Regions from separate parts of the Homo sapiens genome. Here region 1 is reported to be linked to region 2. The links are microRNA targets in miRTarBase. Many come from high-throughput screens and were not tested one by one. Region 2 holds a microRNA gene; the other region holds the end of a gene's coding sequence.

Evidence for each region. The annotated mature microRNA hsa-miR-607 reads GUUCAAAUCCAGAUCUAUAAC and lies in region 2 at 2,135-2,155, shown strand. An mRNA with a match to its seed (bases 2 to 7 or 8) in the 3' UTR can be bound and repressed. Matches are read on the target gene's strand: a 7mer-m8 pairs with bases 2 to 8, a 7mer-A1 pairs with bases 2 to 7 and ends in A, and an 8mer does both.
Region 1: miRTarBase lists HMGN1 as a target of hsa-miR-607. Seed matches in the 3' UTR shown: 7mer-m8 at 2,288-2,294.

Annotation. Positions count from the first base shown.
Region 1 is chr21:39,340,283-39,343,282 of GRCh38, forward strand. It overlaps HMGN1 (high mobility group nucleosome binding domain 1), which reads right to left. Exons shown (of 6, transcript NM_004965.7): 6 at 2,033-2,877. The coding sequence ends at 2,830. Among named protein-coding and RNA genes, the nearest start is that of HMGN1, 7.3 kb to the right of the region's middle.
Region 2 is chr10:96,827,839-96,830,838 of GRCh38, reverse strand. MIR607 (microRNA 607) reads left to right here and starts at 2,075; the gene lies at 2,075-2,170. LOC102723665 (a long non-coding RNA gene) reads left to right here. Exons shown (of 1, transcript NR_135921.1): 1 at 1-207. RefSeq lists a cis regulatory region at 1-193.

The DNA.
Region 1 (3,000 bases), not on the chromosome of region 2:
GTTAGCTGAGATCGCACCACTGCACTCCAGCCTGGGCGACAGAGTGAGACTCCGTCTCAGAAACAACAACAAAAGGTGTTCCTTCCTGTGGGTAGGATTTAAAAGAAAAAAAAAAAAGGAAAATGGGCAGCCTTAGGGCTAGCAAACACCCAAGTAATAGGTCAGATTTAACAAGGCAAGGCTCGCTCCAAAAAAACTGTAGAAAAGCCTAACGGAGTAGTTCAAGGCAGGATCTTAAAGTACTTCTGTTATGCTTTTCTACAATGTTTTTGGTATTCTATAAGCCAAAACCCTTTACCTGTTTTAATTTGTAAGAAAAACTAGTGATTTCTTTAAATATATCATTACAACGAGTATTCAACGATTAAGAAAATCTGTGATTTGAAAACATCTATTACCACCGTCCGGGGTGGGAAGGTTGGGGATGACAACTAACTAAACACTGGCAGATGGTTCTATGGTTAAAAGGCTTATCAAAAACTCATCTATTCTACCTATACTTCAGAGTTAAAGGCAAATCTGTTCATCACCGTTTCAGGCCTCCATCGTGTAATGACCAACAGCGCTCAGGTGGCTCCTAGTCCTTCCCCATCCCCCAAGGGTTATCAAAGCTTCTTTGCCGTCAGTTCATGACACATCACTATCCTCTGCATTTGCTTTTACTGTATCCTCACTATTCCCTATAAACTCTGCTCTGGCAGTCCGTGCAGAGATCTATGATCCCATAGGGCTTGTTTTTAAAGGATTCTTGCCTACTGATCAGCCCACAGGCAAAACAACACACCAAGTGTACAGAGGTTTAAATTCTGTTCCAAGGATCCCTATTTAGTGATAACCTCAACAAGGTCTGTTCTCCGGCCGTTTTCACTGTTGCCAAGTCAAGAGTTGCCCCACACCACCTCTGAAGACTATACTTAAGAGGGCAGAATGACAACAGAATGTATATGAAAGCAAATCTGGAAAATACATACCATACTAGATTTAGTTGTAGCTTCTTTTTTTGGGACAAGTTTCACTTGTCACCCAGGCTGGAATGCAATGGCGTGAACTCAGCTTACAGCAACCTCTACCACCTGGGTTCAAGCAATTCTTCTGCCTCAGCCTCCTGAGTAGCTGGGATTACAGGTGCCCACCACCAAACCCAGCTAACTGTTTTATTTTTAGTAGAGATGCGGTTTCACCATCTTGGTCTCAAACACCTGACCTCAGGTGACCTACCCACCTCGGCCTCCCTAAGTGCTGGCATTACAGGTGTGAGCCACCACACCTGGCCTATCTGTACTTTTTTTAACCTCATACGAAGAGTTAAGAATTACGTATTTGCTTTGATTCAAAGGATATTGGATTGTTTTTCCCTTAAACCAATATAGTCAAGCAACTTCAAAGGACATAGATACTCAAGCAGTTATGTCTCAGGTATCAACCAACAATGAACCACATAATGGTCCCATATTATATACTGTACCTTCTCTTTAGATACACAAGTACTTACCATTCTATTACAACTCCCTATAGTATTTACATAATAACATGCTGTACAGGTCTATTGCCTAGGAGCAATAGGTTAAACCATACAGCTTACATAGGTAATAGGCTATGCCACTGAGGTTTGTGTAAGCACTCTCTATGATGTTCACGCAAGAAAACTGCCTAACAATGTGTTTCTTAGACTGTATCCAGTCAGTGGTGACCCATGACTGTATTAAACAAAAATTCAAACATTTCACTTAAAAAAAACAACTTTGGAAGATCAAATATGGAATTTTTTTTTTTGAGACAGGGTCTCACTCTGTTGCCCAGGCTGGAGTGCAGTAGTGCGATCTGGGTGCGCTGCAACCTCCACCTCCCAGGTTCAAGCGATTCTCCTGGCTCAGCCTCCCGAGTAGCTGGGATTACAGGCACCTGCCACCACACCTGGCTAATTTTTTTTTGCATTTTTAGTAGGGACAGGGTTTCACCATGTTGGCCAGGCTCAAATGTGGAAATTCTGTAAATAAAATTTAAACCAGAATTTAATCCATGTGCTTCAAAATATTTTCATAACTGAGATTTTATTGGTTGAGGATCAGTACAGACATTTCAATTTGTACACAAATCTTAACATACGTAACGAAATTCTAAAAAGCCATGTATTGTAATTCTTTTTTAAAGTTATTCCAGTGACTTTCCAGCTTAAAATTTGGAAGCAAATTTTCCTTAAGAGGCTATCAAGTACCAGTATCTTCACGTTGGTCAGCTGTTACATACGGCCCACCAGTTCACAACTCAACAGCACGTACACTACATGTTCAAATCTGTAATCTTTCACAGCACAGTAACAAAGTTATTAGGAAAACAGGACTACCACAAAGATGTTACAGAGTGCACACAATTCTGGCAGAGAGAGCCATGATCAAAGAGTGGTTTTCTTTAGGAAACAATTCTACTAAAAAACAACATGGTAATAGAAGTAATTTAAAATGTTCAAGACATTAAATGCAGGACTGACTCCATATTGCCATTTAATATGCTTTGTATTATAGGATATAAAAACTAACCCCCCATCTGTGGAATGTTAAGCTGACACCCGAGACAGTCAGAGCCTCCCATAATTCAATATCCCACACTATTTTCTGGTTGTACCAAAAAATAAACAACCAGCAAATGATTTCACCTCTTAAAAAAAAGCATTTACACTTAAAAAATGGGATGAGGTGGGATTCCCTCCTTCTTAAAAATGTTTCTAGAGCTACTAAAAAACTTGCATTTACAAAATAGTTGATAAAAATATTCCTCTGGATTGTACAAGAAGGGAGACAGGGACCACTGATAAGACATGGTATATGGTTATTAATCAGACTTGGCTTCTTTCTCTCCTGCTTCATCAGAGGCTGGACTCTGCAAAAGAAAGGAAATTGAGATCTTTAGCATTTAACACGTTGTCGTTTTATTTATATGCAACTATCAGGTCTTTAAAAAAGTCAATAACCTTTGTTATTTGTAAAGTCACCTACCTACTCT
Region 2 (3,000 bases):
TTGAAGGAAGAGGACTAATACGAGATTTTAAAAAATGGCTGTGGACAACCATCCTTCAGGTGTGATGGCAGGACATCTTGTATCACCTGAAACTTCCTTTTTTCGCCGCTAGGTGGTGGGTGTGAGTCTTTTGCGGCCTTTAAGTTTCTACGGTGTTTGGAGGAAATACGTTTCAGTTTCAAATAAATGAACAACGTGTAACTCTAAGATGAGTAAATAATCAATGTGTTTTCCAACCACCCCAAGTTAATTTGTTTAAAAAACAATCAAACCAAGGGTAATAATTCCTCGACATAATCTCTTAGTCCCAGACATATGGATTCAGAGAATCCTAGAGGCTTCAGAGATCAATTTTGTAACTTAAGATATGAAATTGGAAGCCCAGACAAGTAAGGTGATTTGACCAAGATTACATAGTTGCTGGGTAGAGAAAGGGCAACAAAAGCCAGGAGACAAGTTTCCCAATTTCCAATTTAATGCTAGTTTTACTACTCTACTCTGAGTTCCAATTTCTGCTTCACTTATTTTGAGTTGGGAACTAACTCATGGTTGACCTATCACAAAGACCTATTTGGAAGAAAGGATAGGGAGGCAATAGTAACAGCTAATATTCATTGAGCACCTATTATATGTTTATCATTGTTTCATTCCATCCAGATAATAATGCTATGAGTATATATTTACCACATTTTCCAAGTTAGGGACACAAGACTCAGATGAGTTAAATACATTTGTCAAGATCACATAGCTACCAAATTCTAACTAAGATCTCTGTGACTCTAAACCCCTCTAAATTGTCTTACAAGTAGAAAGTTGGCTTGGCGCGGTGGCTCACGCCTGTAATCTCTGCACTTTGGGAGGCTGAAGTGGGCAGATCACTTGAGGTCAGGAGTTCAAGACCAGCCTGGCCAACATGGTGAAACCCCGTCTCCACTAAAAATACAAAAATTAGCTAGGCATGGTGGTGGGCACCTGTAATCCCAGCTACTCAAGAGGCTGAGGCAGGAGAATCCGTTGAACCCAGGAAGTGGAGGTGGCAGTGAGCCGAGATCGTGCCACTGCACTCCAGCCTGGGCGACAGAGCTGAGACTCCATCTTGATAAATAAATAAATAATAAGTAAATAAATAAATAGTCTTACAAGTAGAAAATAGACTCTGCAACTGGAGGATTCACTTAACTCTACATGACATGTTCCGAGCACAGTTAAGCAGTTGGACATTCTGTGTTCCTATCACATGGCAGGCGGTGTCCCAGGCACCGAGGACATAGATAGATAAGACAGAATTTCTGACCTCTGTTGCTTTGGGCTACTGTTAAAGAGGGCCTTAGCTGTAAACTCTTACATTCTAGGGAGGGGCAGGTAATATAACATGGCAGTTAATAGGGTCTGAAGACAGCTGGGTTGGAATTCTGGCTCCATTTTTCAGTGGCTGTGTGACCTTGACATATTAACTTTTCTGGTCATTAATTTCCTCATGTGAAAAAGAGGATAATAATAGTCTGCAAGATGGGGTTTGTGTGAAAATGAAATGAAACTATTCACGTACAGTGCTAGCACATTCTTAGCATGAAATGAGCATCTGTTCTCTGATTAGGCCTTCCTAAGCTCCTATCTGTTTGCCCAGTCTGCAGGATGATGGGAAACCAAGATGCTTCTGCAGTTTGGAGTTAATCTGTGAGAGTATGAAGGAATGATAGCAATGACCTCAGCCTTTGAAAACAACCTCTGAGCCATGTTCTATAGTTCTCACAATGGCAGAAAAGGAATGTCAGGGAAGGGGAGTAGGACTTGGCTTGTCAGCATTAGATCAACTACTACCTGGTGTCTGATTAAAGATGGCTTGCAACATAGAAATGATCATTGACAAATGGGAGGATGAAATGATTGGGGCCTTCTAAAAAAAGCATGTCCTAATGGGAGGCTTTTTTAAAAAAACATAGTCAACTTCAAATAAATTCCAACAAGCAAGAGATGCTTTTTGAAGCACGTTTCAAAGATTATGTTATTTATTCTTCGCAACAACCCAATCGTGTATCCCATTTTATAACAGAGCACAGAGAGGTTAAGTAACTTGCCTAAAGTCACACAGGTTATAGATCTGGATTGGAACCCAGGGAGCCAGACTGCCTGGGTTCAAATCCAGATCTATAACTTGTGTGACTTTGGGCGAGTTACTTAAAGCCGGCTCTTTAACCATCACACTATTTTTTGCTTCCAGTGCTATTTCGGGGAAATGAGACCTAAGTCAGAGACAAGACCTAGCCAGACAGAAAGGAAGCCATGTCACTTGGTCACACGGCTTTTGGTCTTTTTGAGAAACTACTCATGTAGTGGCTTTTTTTGCTTAATAAAAGACTTTCAGGCCGGGCATGGTGGCTCACGCCTGTAATTTCAGCACTTTGGGAGACCAAGCCGGGAGGATCACTTGAGGTCAGGAGTTCGAGACCAGCCTGGACAGCATGGTGAAACACTGTCTCTACCAAAAATACAAAAAAAATTAGCTGGGTATGGGGTGCACCTGTAATCCCAGCTTCTTTGGAGGCTGAAGCAGGAAAATCACTTGAAGCCGGGAAGCAGAGGTTGCAGTGAGCTGATATCATGCCACTGCACTCCAGCCTGGGCAACAAAGCAAGACCCTGTTTCAATAAATAAATAACTTTCAGAGTTTCTCTCTTTTCAGCCTGTATACCTCTATGCCACTGGCCTAGAAAACATGTATGATTTTACTTTATGTTGTACGTGTGACATTTATTTTTCTTCTGTAGTTTTATTGAGATATATTTCACATACCATAAAATTCGCCCATTTGAAGTGTCCACTTCATCTGAAAGCAGGCAGTGGGAGGAGTGGCATCTCTTGGCTTTTTCCTGGGCTCTTGGCTCTGGGTCTTTGGCGCATGTTTTAGCATGGTAGAAATGTTTGACTGTCCCAGCCGGGTGCTGCCTTTCTGCATAAATGAGATCTTTTCTGCCTGGCAACATGGTTTTACCCTCACAT